4 separate regions of the Homo sapiens genome follow, and all the other regions are reported to be linked to region 1. Evidence: microRNA targets listed by miRTarBase, many of them from high-throughput screens and not tested one by one. Region 1 holds a microRNA gene; each other region holds the end of a gene's coding sequence.
What was found. The annotated mature microRNA hsa-miR-1286 reads UGCAGGACCAAGAUGAGCCCU and lies in region 1 at 2,927-2,947, shown strand. An mRNA with a match to its seed (bases 2 to 7 or 8) in the 3' UTR can be bound and repressed. Matches are read on the target gene's strand: a 7mer-m8 pairs with bases 2 to 8, a 7mer-A1 pairs with bases 2 to 7 and ends in A, and an 8mer does both.

Region 2: miRTarBase lists PRDX5 as a target of hsa-miR-1286. The part of its 3' UTR that is shown has no 7-base or 8-base seed match.
Region 3: the mRNA of BSN is a reported target of hsa-miR-1286. The part of its 3' UTR that is shown has no 7-base or 8-base seed match.
Region 4: miRTarBase lists BANP as a target of hsa-miR-1286. Seed matches in the 3' UTR shown: 7mer-m8 at 500-506.

The regions. Positions count from the first base shown.
Region 1 is chr22:20,248,092-20,252,091 of GRCh38, reverse strand. MIR1286 (microRNA 1286) reads left to right here and starts at 2,881; the gene lies at 2,881-2,958. All of the region lies in intron 1 of RTN4R (reticulon 4 receptor), which reads left to right. RefSeq lists an enhancer at 3,321-3,922.
Region 2 is chr11:64,320,587-64,325,799 of GRCh38, forward strand. It overlaps PRDX5 (peroxiredoxin 5), which reads left to right. Exons shown (of 6, transcript NM_012094.5): 3 at 75-206; 4 at 279-317; 5 at 421-482; 6 at 1,000-1,225. The coding sequence ends at 1,105. It overlaps LOC102723878 (a long non-coding RNA gene), which reads right to left. Exons shown (of 4, transcript NR_188518.1): 4 at 4,464-4,745. Among named protein-coding and RNA genes, the nearest start is that of PRDX5, 5.1 kb to the left of the region's middle. RefSeq lists a silencer at 4,754-4,906.
Region 3 is chr3:49,663,828-49,669,040 of GRCh38, forward strand. BSN (bassoon presynaptic cytomatrix protein) reads left to right here. Exons shown (of 12, transcript NM_003458.4): 8 at 1-59; 9 at 596-727; 10 at 972-1,026; 11 at 1,402-1,491; 12 at 3,763-5,213. The coding sequence ends at 1,012. Among named protein-coding and RNA genes, the nearest start is that of APEH, 7.9 kb to the right of the region's middle. RefSeq lists a silencer at 2,769-3,063 and an enhancer at 2,769-3,063.
Region 4 is chr16:88,076,369-88,080,368 of GRCh38, forward strand. BANP (BTG3 associated nuclear protein) reads left to right here. Exons shown (of 14, transcript NM_001386991.1): 14 at 222-948. The coding sequence ends at 293. Among named protein-coding and RNA genes, the nearest start is that of LINC02182, 120 kb to the right of the region's middle.

The sequences.
Region 1 (4,000 bases):
CGATGGTGATGATGAGGATGGTGATGGTGATGATAGTGATTGTGATGAGGATGGTGATGATAGTGATGGGATGATGGTGATGAGGATGAGGATGGTGATGATGGTGATGGTGATGGTGATAGTGATGAGGATAAGGATGGTGCTGCTCTGGTCGCCTGGGGATGATGATGGTGATAAGGATAGTGGTGATGATGATGGTGGTGATAGTGATAGTGATGATGGTGATGAGGATGGTGAGGGTGATGAGGATGGTGATGATGATAATGATGGTGATAGTGTTGGTGATGATGGTGTTGAGGCTGGTGATGGTGATGAGGATGGTGATGAGGATGATAGTGGTGGTGATAGTGATGGTGATGATGGTGTTGAGGATGGTGATGGTGATGATGATAGTGATGGTGATGATGGTGTTGAGGATGGTGTTGAGGATGGTGATGGTGATGAGGATGGTGATGAAGATGATGGTGGTGATAGTGATGGTAATGAGGATGGTAATGATGATAGTGGTGGTGATGATGGTGATGATGCTGCTGCTGATGATTATGGTGGTGATAGTGGTGGTGATGGTGATGAGGATGGTGATGGTGATGATGAGTATGTTTACAATGATGATAACAAGGACAGAAAATGCCTCCACAGCCTACTTTTCCTTCACAATCTTGGCTATGGGTCTGCAGGAGCATCCAGGCCTGAGGCCGTGGAGGGTGGTCCAGGGCATCCTGTTTGCAAGGAGGGACCGCACTCCCTTTCCTCTCTTGTTTCCTGCACCAAGTGTTCTCATCTTTAATATTTCTTTGTTATTAACTGTGAAGATCCCTTTAGCAGAGGCTGGAATCCTGATGTCCTGGGAAGTACATCGACACGGATCTGCCCAGGTCACCTCTTTCCAGGCCCTGTCCAGCCCAGGGAGGCAGCTTGATGTTAATGGGTCATAAGCCACCTTGGTGTGACCTGGCCAGAGTCCCTGATACAAGGTGCAGGGAGAGGCCTCGGCCCAGCCTCTGCAGGGTTCCAAGGTGGGTGGACTGGCATGGAGGGGCCCTGTCCCCAGAGACCCCCTACCTCAGTTAAACGGCTGCCCTCTTCAAAACTACCTGCACTGGATTTGTCTCCTCTGAAGTGCCACCCAAGTCCTTTCCTCCGAAGCCGGACTGTGTCATTCAGCACTTCCTCTGCTGTCCCCCTCTCCTTACAACCATTTTGTTCTCTTTGTGTGTATGTGTGTGTGTGTGTGTGCATGCATGTGTGTGTGTGTAATCCCAGCTACTCAGGAGGCTGAGGTGTGAGCCACCCCTCCCAACTTATTTGTGTTAGGTTGTCCTATTTTATGCATATTTGACTGTGAGACTCCTGACAGCCTCTTTAGAAAAATGATCATTTCTGTTTTGACCTGCAGAGTATTTCAGTATTTCTGAGTCTCTTTCTTGCCTAGAACCCCTCACCCTAGGCCTCCGTGAGATGCTGACCTTGCCCAGGTCTCCACAGAGCTGAGCCTGCACTGAGGTTGCTGGGCTCTGTTCACCTGGCTATGTGACTTCAGCAGGACCGTGGTCTTCTCTGACCCTTGGTTTCCTTTTCATTAGTGGGGGTCTGAGTGAACTGCTGGGGCCATTGTGAGGGTGAAGGTGGCAGCACCCACACTCGGCTTGCTCACAAACCAGGTCGGCAAACTGTTTGTGTGAATGGTGTGATACTAAATAATTCCAGCTTTGTGGGCCACACAGTGTGTCATAACAACTCAGCTCTGCTGTTGTTGCGGGAAAGCAGCCATGGACAATGCGTGAACACATAGGTGTGGCTGGCTGCCAATAGCACATCCTTTACAGAAGCAGCAGCCAGCCCTTGGGCCAGTTTGCCAGGTGCCAGTAGAATAGGAGGCCAAGGCCTGTCGGCTCTGACAAGGGTTCCACTCTGGCCCCCGGACACGGAGCTCTGGCCTTGGCTGGGGGAATTCCAATGGGAACATCCCAGGCTGAGGAGGATCCTCTCCTGCCTCTTAGATTCCTCATCCCCTGGGGAGTGCTGGATCCCACTGGCCCTGCCTGGCTGAGCTTCTCTGTGGTCTTAGCAGGCACTGCTTATGTGCCGTGGGCCAGCTGCTGCCCCCAGCTCAGTTTCTAATGTGAAGGGCTGGGCAGTCCCTGGGATGGCTCCAATGGGAGCCTGTCCAGCTGCTGTTCTGCTGACTGAGGCTGATCCAAGGCTGCTGAGAACAAGCCGGCAAGAGCCTCAGGACCCACACGTGTCTTTTCACAGCAGAATAAATTCTGCTCGGACAGAGGCCGCTCGCCTGCCTGGTTGATCATGTTTTACAAATGCTGAGGGCAAGAGAACACATGGGGATGTGCCTACACATCTTCCTCTGCCGCAGCGGCATGCAGACCCTCCAGCCGGGCCCTGGCTCCTGGGAGGGGCTCGCATCCCAGCAACCCTCTACTGCTCAGTGGACTCTGCCTGAGCCCTGACCAGCCCTGGGGGCTCTTATTGTGTGTTTCCGGTATGCACGCCTATCGTGTGCACCCCCAGGGGTCCCATTGCATGCACTGAGTCTGTGCTCCTGGCTCGTGCACCCTGAGCATGTGCTCTTGTACTTCCTCCTGCCCTGTCAAGGCCGACACTCTGGGCTCACAGGCAGTGGTCAGCCTTGTGCATGCAGCAGATCCAGGGTCCTGGGGGAGTGTGGGAGGGCTGGGGCTTAGGTCTGGATGCTAGCCCATGGGAGTGGATGTGGGCCCTGCAGGGCTAGGCACCAGGTAGCGGGCAGGGTCAGGCAGGCAGATGGGCATGGGAGGCAGGTGTATGGCAGTGCTGGGCCCAGACCTGGCTCAGAGTGCGTCCCCAGGGTGGGAGCAGGCCGGCCACCGGTCACTTGCTCATTAGTGTCCTCTGGGGACTCAGCTTGCTCTGGCTGCTGGATTGAATTAGCTGCAGGACCAAGATGAGCCCTTGGTGGAGACAGGATTCTCCAGATAATTAGGCAGCAGGTGTTTGTTGGCTCCTGGTGGAGCATGGAGGAGCAGGTGGGCTCAAGCCTCCTGTGGGGCAAGGGGGCACTGGCTGTGCCCTGGGCTGGGCGAGGCCTCCACTGGGCAGAGCCTCCAGGGGCCCCCAGTGTGGGGCTCACTGGGGTGGGAGCCGAGGAGGGTGCACCTCCAGTGAGGGGTGTATGGGCTGGATGGGGCAAGGTTCTGGAGCCCTCCACGCAGGCAGCCCAGCATTGACCAAAGATGAATCCTCGAGGCCTAGGTGCTAGGCCAAGGATCCTGCCCACTTGGGGCTCTGCCAAGACCCTTTGGCTGGTAGTGGGCTCCTGGGCTCCTGCCAACATCCTCATGCTGCCTGGGGCTGGCTCAGGCCTCTGTGGCTCCTAACTCTCCCATAGGGCACCTGCCATGCAGCAGGGTGGCTGCCCGTGGTCAGCTGGCCCTGGACCGTGAGTGCCTGGGACCCGGCTCCTCGGCCTGGTCTTGTATGGGCGGCACTCAGCACAGCACCTGGGACAGGGGCCACTTCACACCTTGCCAAGGTACGGAGGGAGGGCCAAGCGAGTGGATGATCCTGCACGGTGTGGCCCACGTTGATGTGTCCTTGGGGTGAGGGTGCCATCCAGGGCTGCCAGCTCTCACCTGGGCCAGGCCATCCTCTGCTAGCTTCAGTGTCTGTGACTTGAAAGGTGTACCCTCTCAGGTGCCCTGCTGGCTGGAAACAGGACTGTGGAGCTCAGGTTAGGAGCGGGGGTGGCTGAGCCTTTACTGCCCAGCAAGACCTTTTCGCACCCCTGGGGCCATGAGACTGGGAAGCCCGCTAGCCCTGGGGCTGTGGCTTCTCCTGCTTTACTTGTTATTATTTTTCTGATAATATCTTTAATTGCAAGATTTTGTGTACTTTTAGGCATGTTTCTTGTAAGTAGCATATGGTTGGATTTGACCTTGGATTGTGTTTGCTATTGATTATACCCACACCAGTTCTTATGTTCCTCATTTGTAAAATGGGTCAATAA
Region 2 (5,213 bases), not on the chromosome of region 1:
GGCCTGGAGATAAAGGGTGGGCTGGGGGTCAGATGCAGTTATCCCTTTGCCGACCCTTTGTTCCCCTTCCTCAGACACACCTGCCAGGGTTTGTGGAGCAGGCTGAGGCTCTGAAGGCCAAGGGAGTCCAGGTGGTGGCCTGTCTGAGTGTTAATGATGCCTTTGTGACTGGCGAGTGGGGCCGAGCCCACAAGGCGGAAGGCAAGGTGAGGTGAGGGGCCTGCAGGGAGTCAGGACCAGGTAGGATATTCTTCTTGTGACCTTTACTTTCTCTGCAGGTTCGGCTCCTGGCTGATCCCACTGGGGCCTTTGGGAAGGTGAGTGTTCCCCTGACCGCCACAGGGACATGGCAGTGCGGGGAGCAGTGGGGGCCCTTAGCCTCTTCAAGGATTTCTGACACTTTTCTCTGTCTCTTCTTAGGAGACAGACTTATTACTAGATGATTCGCTGGTGTCCATCTTTGGGAATCGACGTCTCAAGAGGTAAAAGTGGAGAGTCCTCTGTGGAGAGAGTCCTCTGTGGGAGAGAGTCCTCTGTGGGAGAGAGTCCTCTGTGGAGAGGGTCCTCTGTGGGAAGAGTCGTCTGTGGGGGAGAGTCCTCTGTGTGGGAGAGTCGTCTGTGGGGAGAGTCCTGTGTGGGGAGAGTCCTCTGTGGAGAGAGTCCTCTGTGGGGGAGAGTCCTGTGTGGGGGAGAGTCCTCTGTGGGGAGAGTCCTCTGTGTGGAGAGAGTCCTGTGTGGGAGAGAGTCCTGTGTGGGGAGAGTCTTCTGTAGGGGAGAGTCCTCTGGGGAGAGAGTCCTGTGTGGGGGAGAGTTCTCTGTGGGGAGAGTCCTCTGTGTGGAGAGAGTCCTGTGTGGTGGTGAGTCCTCTGTGGGGGAGAGTCCTCTGTGGGGGGAGTCCTCTCTGGAGTTCTCTTGGGCCCCTGGCTGTTCACTGCCTGTCTCCATGCCCAGCCTCCAAGCCCAGGCTGATGCAGCTGGCTGGGCCCCTCTTTCCGGCAGGTTCTCCATGGTGGTACAGGATGGCATAGTGAAGGCCCTGAATGTGGAACCAGATGGCACAGGCCTCACCTGCAGCCTGGCACCCAATATCATCTCACAGCTCTGAGGCCCTGGGCCAGATTACTTCCTCCACCCCTCCCTATCTCACCTGCCCAGCCCTGTGCTGGGGCCCTGCAATTGGAATGTTGGCCAGATTTCTGCAATAAACACTTGTGGTTTGCGGCCATCTCCTTGGTTATGAATGGCTGTTTCGCTGAGCGCCAGGCATTCTGGCATCATCACAGACTGGGTGAGAATGGTGAGGGCGCAGATGGGCTGAAAGGGAGAATGTAGGGGGTCCTGCTTAATTAAGGGGGAGCTAGGGAGGGCCTTTCAAGGGAAGTTTTTTTTTTTTTTTTTTTTTGAGACAGTTTCACTCTGTCCCCTAGGCTGGAGTGCAGTGGCATGATCTCGGCTCACCACAACCTCTGCCTCCCAGGTTCAAGCGATTTTCCTGCCTCAGACTCCCCAGTAGATGGGATTACAGGTGTCTGCCACCACGCCCGACTAAGTTTTTGTATTTTTGGTAGAGACGGGGTTTCACCATGTTGGCCAGGCTGGTCTCGAACTCCTGACCTCAGGTGATCACCCGCCTCCACCCCCCAAAGTGCTGGGATTACAGGTGTGAGCCACTGTGCCCAGCCTTGAGGCAGGTGTTACTGAGCACTGAGAAGGAGCCAGCAATCTGAAGAGGAAGGGAAGAAGCGCTCCCCACAGAGGCAGCACAGAGGGCGAGGCCTGGCCGATGGCATGTGGCGCACAGTGTGGCCTTTGTACCTGCTCTCTGGGTGCTGCCTGATGCCATTTAGTCTGGAAACCCCATGGCGGGAAGCTTGGCTCCCAGCATTCCTGCCGGGGCCCAGCCCCACCATCCTTTCAGACTTGACCCCCTCCTGGGCACACCCTCATCCCAGGAAGAGCTCAGGTCACTTTAGGACCATCTGATGGACAGGGAGAGGGGCTCTGGCACAGCACTTGCTCATTCCAGGAGGGCTCCCTGGGGGAAGAGTCTAGGTGAGCTGTGGAGGGGAGAAGATGCTGGTGAGGCCTGACCAGTGGTGGCTGGGTGTGAGGGGCCTCAAGTGGGGACACCAGCAGGGTGTGGGGATGGGGGCCATTGCCACGGCAGGCCCTGCTCCTGGGCCTCTGCCCCTTGGTGCAGGGAAGCCACGCCTGTGATGGTGAGGCCCCACTGCGTGGAGTCTAGGGGGCCTCTGTGCCCTGCGCGATGCTGCCTGCCTGCCCACCCCAGGTGTGGTAACAGCCCTCACAAGAATTGGTGAGGTGTGGACTGCTGCTGCCTCTCAGCCACCTACAGGGAGTCCGCATTCCATCACCGCGTGGAGCTGCCCTGCCATGAACCACATCAATACCTGGCTCCCAGGCACTTCCTGCGTAGTGGTCCCCAGGGGTCAGCCCCCACTGCTGACTCAGGCAGGCCACACTCTTGAGAGGTCAGGGAGAAGGTCAAAGCAGGGCCTCATAGAGCAAATGACCCTTGAGGCAGTGGGAGTGGCGCCTCAAGTGGGAGGCGGAGGGAGGCCCATAGCCCTAGGGGTGAGCCCCATAGCCCTAGGGGTGGAGGGTGGGACAATCCCATGCTGCCGCAGCAAGGTGGGTAGCAGGAGTAGGGGGGGAATGTTGGGGACAAGAGAGGATGCCTGGAGGTCAGTGGGCTCTCTGAAGCTGATGAGCAGCTTGCCTTCCACCCTACAGGCACCTTGGCCATGGGCTACCGTGTGCAGCCCCCAAGCTGGGAGGCTGGGAGAGGCACCAGATGGGCAGCAGGGAGCAGGACCCATGATGACAGCAATGCCCAGGAGGTGGAGGTGGAGATGTGTTGGGAGGGAGGGTGCATCCAGGGAGCTGCTTGCTGAAGGTGGAGGGGCTGGGTGCTTGTGGTCACGTCTGTGAGAACAGACACTCAGTAGGAGGGGAGCCAGCCTCCCTGCCCAGGGTTGCAGGTGCTCAGCCTACCCGAGTCGTGCTGCCCACCAACCTCTGTCACTGTGGTTCTCTCCCACAACCTGCCACCCCTTCAGGGGTCCCAGGTGGGGGCAGGGAAGGAGGCTGACTGCACCTCGAGCTGCCCTGGTAAACTGCCTGCCTCTCCTCTCCTGCCAAACTCGGGGGTACAGTGTTGTCCTCATGGACACGCATAACACAAAGCCCCTTTCTTTCCCGGATACCACCTCTTTATCCTCTCATCATACAAATGAGAAAACAGACGTGGAGCTTCCTACAGGGCACCTGTGAGCTAATGAGTGTCTCCATTAGTAAATAGGGGGTGGTGGTAGCAAATAGCCCACCCCACTGGCTGTGCACCCCACGCTACCCAGGCAGCTCCCTGCTATCGGGGAAGCCCAGCTCCGTCTCTGTCACTCTGCTGCCTGTTTCCTCTGCTCCTGGGCTATTATCTGGGCTGGCTGAGGCCAAGCAAGGCCTCTAGAGGAAGTGTCCCCTCCAAGGTCTGTTGCCACTGGCTGGGCCTCTAGGAAGGGTTGAGAGGGCTTCCAGGGCTGGGGTGGCCCTCTAGGACAGCCTGGTGTGGGTGGCGGTGGGGCTGTGGCCTCAGTGGCCCTGACTGCTGAGCATGTGGCTGAGCTTGCTGGAGTGAGGACGTCCTTGGGTGGGGGCACGGAGGACTGGCCCTGGAAGCTGCTCCAGGCCCTGGAGGGCCCAAGATTAAACAGCACCTGGCAAGAGAACCTTGCATAGCTGTCTCCAGGTTGGACAGGTGGGGCTTCAGGCCTGGAGATAAGGGCAGACCAGGCCACGGTGTCCTGGACCAGAGAGCCCTGGACATCTGGGCTGCACCTGGCAGAGCTGTGCGTGTGGCCTTCCTGGGCTCTTGGTGGCCGAAAGACCAATGTTAAAAAACATAACAGGCCAGGCGGGGTGGCTTACACCTGTAATCCCAGCACCGTGGGAGGCCAAGGCGGGTGGATCATTTTAGGTCAGGAGTTTGAGACTAGCCTGGCCAACATGGAGAAATCCCATATCTACTAAAAATACAAAAATTACTTGGGCATGGTGGCGCATGTCTGTAATCCCGGCTACTGGGGAGGGAGGCTGAGGCAGGAGAATTGCTTGAACCTGGGAGGTGGAGGTTGCAGTGAGCCGAGATCGTGCCACTGCATGCCAGCCTGGGAGACAGAGCAGGAGTCTGTCTCAAAAAAAAAAAAAAAAAAAAAAAAAAGAAAAGAAGCTGAAACATCCACCCAACAACACATGCCCCAGTGAAACTCACTTGCCTGTCCTAGCATGCCCAAGGCCATAGCAACTGAGACCAGAAGGCCAAGGGTGTTACTCAGCATCAGTGGTTCTGGGCCTTCCTGGGTCTAGAGTCCCTTTGAAACGCAGCTGAACAGACCCCAACATGAGCCTGAAGAGTGTTGACCTAAAAGGAAGAAGCCTAGGCAAAATTAATATCAGCGGAGACTTTATTTGGGCCAAGCTTGAGGATTGCATCCCAGGAGCACAGATTCAAGTTGCCCTGAATATACACTCCGATTAGCAGAAGTTGAAATGGATTTTAAAAGGACAAGAGAGCTCCTGAGTTGTTTACTAAGAATTTACATTAAAATAACAAACTGGCTGGCTGCAGTGGCTCAGGCCTGTAATCCCGGTTCCTCTGGCAGCTGAGGTGGAAGCATTGATTCAGGCCAGTTTGAGACCAGCTTGGACAACATAGCAAGACACCGTCCCTACAAAATAAATAAATAAATAAATAAGTAAATATATAAATAAGTTGTCGTAGTGCATGCCTGTGGTCGTAGCTACTCAGGAGGCTGAGGCGGGAGGATCGCTTGACACCAGGAGTTGGTGACTAACTACAGTTAGTGAGCTATAATCGTGCCACTACCCTCCAGCCTGGGTGACAGAGCGAGACCTTGTCTCTAAAAAAATAAAAATAGGCCGGGTGTGGTGGCTCACACCTATAATCCCAGCACTTTGGGAGGCTGAGGTGGGCGGATCACCTGAGGTCGGGAGTTCGAGACCAGCCTAACCAACATGGAGAAACCCCGTCTCTACTAAAAATACAAAATTAGCCAGGTGTGGTGGCTCATGCCTGTAATCCCAGCTACTCGGGCGGCTGAGGCAGAAGAATCACTTGAACCTGGGAGGCGGAGGTTTTGGTGAGCCAAGATCTCACCACTGCACTCCAGCCTGGG
Region 3 (5,213 bases), not on the chromosome of region 1:
AGCACCGCAACAGGGGAGGGCTCCTCAGGCCCAGCCAGCACCAGGACCTGGACCTGCAGGTGAGCCTATCCTTTGACACCCTTGGCTGTGGCCCAGAGCACCCAGGCTGTTCTCTCTCTATACCACCTGTGCCCTGAGCTCCCCCACACTGCATGCCCTCACTAATCCCTGAGAAGGTGCCCCAGGGGCTGTAGACCTCCCCAGCAGAAAACAAGCCTGGGGTTAGAATAAGCCAATGAGGTCACCAGCACAGGGGCTTTAGGGCCCAAGCAGCTTTGGGCAGAGAAGCAGGAAGGCACTGGTGAGCACAGGGTGGGGACCATGGCTTCTTGCTCCCTCCTTCCTTCCCCTTTCCTGCTCTTCTCTGCCTTTTTTTCCCTTTCTTCTTCTTTCCCTTCCTCAACCTCCTTTTTTCTGCCTTCTCCCACCCCTTGTCTTCCTGTTCTTACCTTCTTCTCTTTATTTCCCTAGCCTCCTTCTCACCTTCCCACCTTATAGGGTACCTGTGTTCAGATTCTCTCGTGGGTACTTGCCCTCTTAGACCCTAAAGAGCCAGGCCGTGCATAGCTCATTATGGCGATTTCTTTCCTCCTAGGTGTGAAGGCTGGAGCCAGGCCTGGAGGAACCCCAGGGGCTCCCGCCGGCCAGCCAGGTGCCGATGGGGAGAGCGTGTTCTCCAAGATCCTCCCTGGCGGGGCAGCCGAGCAAGCTGGCAAACTGACGGAAGGTATGCACTGCCTGCAACTGGTCTGTGGTGGGTGGCTACTCTGGTACAGGCTGGGTCTGTGAGATGATTCCAGACTCAGTCACCCAGGCAGAGGCCAGCCAGAGAGCCCACCTGCTGATGCCCAGTTGTTCTCCGGGCAATCTCTGCCCCTTGGGCTGAGCTTGCCTTCACTATGCCAAGTGGCCCTGACTGGGAGGGGTCTGGCCCAATTTCCTGATGGCTCTCTCCTCTTTCTTTGTCACAGCTGTCTCTGCTTTTGGCAAAAAATTTTCCTCATTCTGGTGACCATGCCCAGCATGGTGAGTACAAGCAGCCTGTACCTTGCCTCTTCTGGGAAAGGCCCGAGGCACTGGGGGTGGGGGTGGGGCTCTAAGTCCGAAGGGGTCCTCTGGGAGGAGTCCAGTCTTCGGCTGGTTCAGTACCCAGAGCTGCAATGTTCCCTTCTCTGAATGTGGGAGGAGAAAAAGGAGGGACACTGTGCACAGAGCCCCTACCATGGGGCCAACACAGTAGGGGTCCCCAGCAAAGGAGGGGCCAAAGCCAGGGCCAGTGCCCTGGCTTTCAAACCATCTGCCATCCCCTGCAGGGCTCTCACAGCACTGGGCTGGCACTGGGTTGTAGGTAGGCCTCCAGGGATGCAACTCCTCTCCAGCCCTCCTCTAAATGCTCCACAGGCTCTTGAAGAAATGAAGAGAGGTATCATTGCTGTGGAAAAATCTCTGGAGTCAGAGGCCTGGGCGCAGCTCTGGACTCTGCGTATAACAGTGAGTGTCAGGATCAGGGTGAGATGGGCCGGAGGAGGGGTGAAGGGCCAAGGCCTGGCTGATGACAGCTAGCCAGTTCTGACAAGTGTGAACTGGGAAGGGCCTGTTGGGTTTCCTTCAGCTGCGATGGGCCCAGCAGCCCTCTACCCCGCAGAGGCAGGGGCCACAGAGCTGCCTGAGATGGTGCCAGACAAGTCAGGTGGCACCCTTGGAGAAGAGCCCAGCACGGCTAACTGCACCTCACAACTTGAAGTCTATGTGCTGGGCACTGAGTTCAAAGTCATCCTGAAGGACCTGGTAGTCTGTGGCACCTGTAGGGGAACATGCTTCTTCCCTGATGTCTGCTGCTGGTGCCTTTGCTCCAGCCACTTGGAAGAGATTAGAGTCCCCAAACCCCACAGAGTCACATCTGCAGCTCTGGGAATGAAGTCAAAACACTCCTGGCTTCACAGGCTGAGCTTGTGGCCCACAGGATAGAAGAGTGGAAGGAGTAGAGAGGCAGACAGGAAGGGACATAGAGGAAAGGGAGTCTCAGCCCCAGACTAAGTCAGCTCAGGGAGAGGGCAGAAGGGCCTCAGGATGGGAGCCCTCACCCTGTCTGGGCTGCAGTGGCCAAGGCAGGTTGGGACACCACTTCCTGGAGCCTGTCCTGGCCCTGGCCCTGGCCCTGGCCTTGGCCCTGCCTCTGTGGGAGGAGGAGGAAGTGCATCATCCTGGGTGGGAGGAGAATCACCTGGCTGTTGGTACAGCTCTGTGCACAGCCAGGACCACTGACCATCATCCCATAGCCCTCGGACCCTCCTCTTCTCCCTCCTTGCCCCTTCAGGGTGCTTCTCACGGTGCACAAGCATGTATGTGTTATCCATGGCGGGGCCTGGCGGTCAGTGAGCAGGTCACTTCAAGGGAGCCCTGGGGCTGGCAGATGCTGGGCCCGGGCCAGCACTGGTTGTGGGAGGGAAGGAGCTAGGTGTGATACCTCACAGGCTACCTTTCTCTGGAAAAGCAGTGGGGCCCTGGAAAGGCCCAGGCTTCCGTCCATTTATTCAACAAATGTTTGTCAAGCCCCAGGTATGTGCCAGGCACTCTTCCAGGATCTGGGGATATGGCAGAGAACAAAACCAAGTCCCTGCCCTCTGAAGCTGACAATCCATTAAAGGAGATAGAGAATAAATAAGTTTAAAAATAAAATTCAATTAAAAAGGTACTTTCTGAAAGTGATGAGTGTTATAAAGCCAGAGAAGCAGAGCTATGGAAGCAGTGGGGTCTGCTCTAGACAAAGTGCTCAGAGCAGAAGATATGTGAGGGAAGCTTGAGGGAGGAGGACGACTGCGGTGGGATGAAAAAAGGGGAGGGAACAGCACTGACGGATGATCGGATGCTGGGATGGGACCAGGGACAGGGCAAAGGCCAGTATAGCCAGGGCCACAGTGGAGGGGAGAGGTGGTCAGGGGTAAAGTCCAAGGGGGTGGGAGCCAGCTGGGGTGGGTTGTGCAGGCCAAGTAAGGAGCCTGGAATTTATTCTAATTACAGTAGCCATAGTGCAGCCCTTAGCGTTCTTCCTGCCTTCACCCTCCCACAGCGGGCTTCCTGCGGCTTCCCGCTCAGCTGATGTTTCCTTGGAGTTGCCCTGGAACAGATGTGAAATCACAAGTGGTGCTGAAAGTGGGGGAAGGAGGGACAGCCCATGGCCTGGATTCATGACAGTACCTACCTTGGGTTTGGGGCCAGGGTATGGCTCCTGAGCAGGGAAAGGAAGCACAGACACAGCTTTGTTCTGCGTCCTGCCACATGGTGTGGTTGGGCCACTGAGACCACTGACTTTATAGTTAAAGAAATCTCCCTTGAGTTCTAGCATTCGGCTAATGATTGGGTCAAGTGGACAGTGCTGCCGTGAGTATCCCTCTCCTGAAATTCTTTACGGCAATTTCAGAGATGGGCTTGGAGAGGTTTGCCATTTCAAACCAAATCCCTTCTCCATCACTCTTAAGCCAAAAAAAAAAAAAAAAAAGGAACTTTTGTTACATTAAAAGAAGTGTCCCTTCCTGGCTGACCTGATTCTTCTTTCTTGCTGTCCTCTCTGTGACCTCCAACCTGCCCAAGCACCCATCTCCCCAAGCCTGAGTGGCATGGCACCCCGTGGGTGAGGAGGTGGCCGCTAGCACAGGCAGATGGCTGAGAGGAATGTGAGGGTGAGAAGCAGCTATCTACAATTCTTGACAGAATCCTTTCTTTTCTTCTTTCCTTCCTCCCTCCCTCCTTTTCTCTTTCAAGCATCTACAATCTGGCAAACCCTTGGCCCAAAGACTCACCAGGTGGGACGTGGCAGGCAGGCCTCAGTTGAGGACGTGATGTTTTCTCACAGCAGCTGCCTGGGTGAAGCATCTGCTGGACAAGTCGGACCACTGGCCAGGGGACCTTTGATTGTCTTTCCAGAGATGCTGCTCTCTGCAGGGCACCACCTTCAAGGCACAGCCCTTGTTGGGAGGGAGAACCCTCTCCAGAAACCCTGCCACCATGGTGTCTTGCCGTACTTCCCACAGCCGCCTTTTTGCGGCCTGGCCGGCCAGGCTTCCCGTGCGTTATACACAGAGTTTGGGCACACACTGCCCTCCCTCCGAGATGCCAGAAGTTTTTCCACAGCCTTGGAGAGGGGCTTTGACTGAGGGCTGGGGGCCCTGGGCTCCGTTTCCTTCACATTCCAGCTGGCCCGGATCCCTCTGTGGCACAGGGCCCTGCCCGTCACATGCCCTCTGGGTGACATCGGAGCAGACCTCCATGTGGCCAGGGGTTGGGAGAACTTTACAAACATTAGGACCTAACACTGTCTCATCGCTGAAATAAGAGGCCATAGCACCGAAAAGCAGCGTGGGCGCCGGCTGAGGCTTCTCCCAGCCCGTGGGTGGCAGCGTGCTAGCACACTGCCACCATCTCAAAGCCATCCCCCTAGCCATCGTGAGCATCCCAGCGGCACCGCCATTGTCTCAACCAGCCGGCTCCTCGTCTGTACACCTGGGGATTTCTTTTGATTTCAAGAACAGCCTTAATCATTCCAGTTTGATTTACGTGTATACCTCATAAACATTTTTCTTTTGTTTCTCTCTCCCCCTTTCTCTCTTCTCTTGGCTCACTCCCTTGCCTCTCCCCCTCCACCACCACCTTGTGACTGATGGTTTGGTTTCCTCTCTGCTCTGCCCCTGCTCAGCACAGGGAGAATGTTGACTTAGAAGCAATAGGGGGCAGCAGGCCACCAAGAGCACAACCCCAGGGCGAGGTCTGGGGAGGCCTCCCAGCCCGCCTCTGTTTACTGTGCAATTCCAGTCGTTCTTAAGCCATCACCAGTGGGTGTACTCAGAGCAGAGGGGCCAGGACTTCTGCCAGCCAAGGGAAAGGCCCAGAGCCCTGTGCGGGGGAATGTGGCACTGTCTATCCATCCGGTGGACTGGGCAGCATTCCTCCCCAGGGCTCTTCCCTTGGGGGCCTCCTTTCATCTGGGGCACAGCCACAAGTCTCATCTCTAACGTTCTATGCAATGAAATATAAACCCTCAATGACAACTGTTAATATTTAATAAATTCCATGTTATGTATAAGGAGTTAATTGCAAACATGCAATTGAGAAACTGGATAGATACACTCATAAAACCCCCACCCCTCCCCACCCCACCCCTGCTCCCATTGTGTGTGTGAAATTCTCAGTCTGTGGCATGTTTGACCTGTGGCAGG
Region 4 (4,000 bases), not on the chromosome of region 1:
TGCCGGAGCCTCCCTGGGCGCCAGGGTCGTGGGCGCGTCGTTCCGCTGGGAGCCAGGCGTTGTGTACCAAGTCGGGTGAGCCTTGGGGCCGTCAGGGCTCCTTCGCGCTCCTGTGTGCGTGTTTCTCATTCTGCCTTAAAGTCACTGGCTGTTCATGACACCCCCTGGCCATGCAGTGCTGGGTATTTTTCTAGAAAGTCCCTCCTTTCTCCCTTTTGCAGACGGCCGAAGCCCTGCAGCCCACGCTACAGCCGGAGATGCAGCTCGAGCACGGGGCCATCCAGATTCAGTGAGCGGTGCCCATGGCACCAGGAGCCCCTCGCCGGCTCCGCCTACGGCCCGGCCCCCACGCGCCCTGCTCTCACGGCCTCGGCACAGGCAGCGGCTGCACGTGTTCTGCTGAAGTGCGTCTGAAGGCCGCTGCCTCCGCGGGGAACAGCATCCTATCAACTGAAAGAGCAGCCGCCGCCGCCCCCAGCCGGAGACCCCTTTCGTTTGAGTCCTGCTGTTGGTGTCGGAGCACGAGGGGAGGCACGGTGCGGAGAGCGTCGCATATGCGCGGGAAATCAAGAACTATGATATTTTTCTGTTTAAACAGCTTTTTTTAATTTGCTATGGTGTTTATAACAAAAAAGAAAATTTGAAAAAAAAAATCCCAGGGGAGTAGCAGGAGCCCTTTGCTGTGTGCTCTGTCCAGTGTCATGAGACGGGAGCCCTTTGCTGTGTGCTCTGTCCAGTGTCATGAGACGGGAGCCCTTTGCTGTGTGCTCTGTCCAGTGTCATGAGACGGGAGCCCTTTGCTGTGTGCTCTGTCCAGTGTCATGAGGCAGGTGTTTGCAAAGCCAGCTCTCGGTTCCGATGGGGTATTGCTGACCTACTTTTCTAGGGGAAATGCTCTTAAACACTGTAATTATGCATTTCTAATGAAATAAAATGTATTTATGACCACAGCAGCCTTACGCTTTTCCTCCTGCGAGACGGTTCGCCAGAGAGTGCCTGTCCCTGGGGGGTTGGGCTCGCTGGCCTTCAGGCCACGCTGCTGCCCTCTCCACTGTGCAGACAGTAGGTGTGGGCACCCCGGGACAGTCAGTTCTGTTTCCGTGTTGTAGGCACTGCCGAGGGGAAACCTGGTTTAGGACACAGCTGTGGAACTTCTTGTTCTCATAAACCACAGAGTTCTGCCAGCTCCAGAAGGCACAGTCCTGGGGTCCTTAGAGAAAGTTGCAGCCACAGGGGCAGGCCCTACTATTTACAGATTTTTTTAAGGCAGAGATAATATCTGCAAATAGAAGTGCCAGAGGCAGTTGAATCCCTGGTGACCAGCCGGGCCTGGACTGCTTCACCTACACCGTTGTGGCAGTTGCGTTAGGGGCTTGGGAAGGGCCTACGTGAAGCCGTGTTCGCTGACTTAGAGCGGGGCCTCTCTGGGCTTTCTCTGGGAGGAGTTCCGCGTTGCCATCCAGACGGTCGTAGCTCCAGCCTGCTCCACCCCGTCAGGATCCTGGGCTGGGTCCCCTTGGGGGTGAGGGTCTGGGATGAGCTGCTCTCGAAAGGGGGATGGCGCTCATGGGTTCTGCGTCTCCATCGTGGTGGGGCCGCCTCTGAAGATGGCCACCACAAGGAGCCGGGCCGAGGCCTCCCAGGAGGTCACCGGAGCTTGGCCACTCTCCAGGAGACAGAAAGGACCAGCTGGGAGGCAGGGTGTAGAAAGTCAAATCCACACGTGTATGACTGGAATCCCAGGAGAGAATGGAGAGAACAGAAGGAAGATGCATTTCAAGGATTCAGGAAGTAGAATAGAACCCCAAGGAGAAACGAACATCAGTCTCTGCCTCGACACACTCAAGTATCACAGGCAGAGATAATTTTGACAGCAGCCAGAGAGAAAGGACAGATGCCTGCGATGGGATGAAAGCAAGGCAGCAGGCGTGGGCACCCACTGGCCGCTGGGTGGAGGGGGAGCCACTGGTGCAGAGGAGGGAGCTCTCGGTGTGGGGCTGGGTCTTCAGTGAACCTGTTGTTCAGGATGCTAGTGACATGCCACCAATTGACCCAGCAGTTCCACTTGTGGGGATCCACCCCGGAGCTCTGAAGACAGCTGCTCACACATGCACTTGTGCCTGGCTGTGCCCAGCAGCACGGCTCATACCAGCCACAGGGTAGACGCAACCTGGGTTTCCATCAGCAGATGAAGGGAGAAACAAAGCTGACTGTCCAAAGAATGGGACGTCATCCAGCCACGTGAAGGAACAGAACATGGATGCGTGCTGCATCCCGGCCAGCACTCAGAGGAGCTGTGCCAAGTGAAGCCACGTGCAGAGGACCACTTACTGTTTGATTCCATTGATACGAAATGTCCAGAAAAGACAACTGCAGAGAGACCGGTTCGTGGTTGCCAAGGACTGGGGTGAGGCAGGATTGGGAGTGACTGCGAATGGGCGTGGGGTTTCTTTTTGGGTGATTAGAATGCTGTGGAATTGAAAGTCGCTGAATCCTTCACTTAAAAGGGCGAATTTGTTGGCATATAAATTATCTCAAAATTACAAAAATAAAGAATTAGGTGATACTTAAAAAAATGTATAAACAAAAATTGAGGCCGGGTGCGGTGGCTCACGCCTATAATCCCAGCGCTTTGGGAGGCTGAGGTGGGAGGATTGCTCGAGCCCAGGAGTTAGAGACAAGACTGGGCAATATAGTGAGACCCCATCTCTACAAAAAAATACAAAACAATGAGCTGGGTGTGGTGGCACGCACCTGTGGTCCCAGCTACTTGAGTTCCTGAAGTGAGAGTATCACTTGAGCCCAAGAGGTTGAGCTGAAGTGAGCTATGATTATACCACCGTACTCCAGCCTGGGTGACAGGGCAAGACCCTGTCTCACAAAAGAAAAAAAAGCTGTCATTTCCGATGACACCTCCTTTACCGGGAATTGTTAGGAATTTTTCTTGAAGAGCAGGAGTATGAATCCAGGGGAGGTGCCTAGAGTAAGATGGAGCGATGGACAAAGAGAATAATAAACATACATAAATCGTTTCATTGAAACTTTAAAAACAATATACTGGAAAACATTACTGTGTAACTTCGGCCATGGATGAAGGGAGGTGAATTGTTTTAAAGCCCCTGTATTGCCCTGCAGAAAAAGGCTGGAAGGGCCGTGCAATTTTTTTTTTTTTTTTGAGACGGAGTTTCACTCTTGTCGCCCAGGCTGGAATGCAGTGGTGTGATCTTGGCTCACTGGAACCTCTGCCTCCCGGGTTCAAGTGATTCTCCTACCTCAGCCTCCCAAGTAGCTGGGATTACAGGCACACACCACCACGCCCAGCTAATTTTTGTATTTTTAGTAGAGATGGGGTTTCACCATGTTGGCCAGGATGGCCTCAATCTCTTGACCTCGTGATCCGCCTGCCTCGGCCTCCCAAAGTGCTGGGATAACAGGTGTGAGCCACCGCGTCCGGCCTTGTTTTTTTTTTTGTTTTTTTTTTTTTTTTTTGAGATAGAATTTCGCTTTTGTTACCCAGGCTGGAGTGCAGTGGCATGATCTCGGCTCACTGCAACCTCTGCCTCCTGGGTTCAAGCGATTCTCCCGCCTCAGCCTCCCGAGTAGCTGGGATTACAGGCATGTGCCACTATGCCCGGCCAAGGGGCATGACATTCCTCACACGACTTGGGTCAAGGTGCTCGTCACCTTGCTGCAGTACCTTGCATCTCTACCAACGTTTTCTATGCCTTGTTTCTGAAGTGTTTGTCATAGTGAATTCCAGGACTTAAAATTGGATTCTTTGAGAAGATTAGTACACTTGAGAAAGCCCTGGTACACTAGTCAGAGAAAAGAGAGCAGGGACAAATTACAATGTCAGAATCTACGAACCCTTCAGACATGAAAACTTGAGGCTGTCTCAGAAGTCAGTGGGAAACGTTAAATGCAATTGACAAATTACTAGGAAAAAACTGCTATCAGAAGAAATAGAACATCTTACTAGCTCCTGTCTTTCAGAAATCTT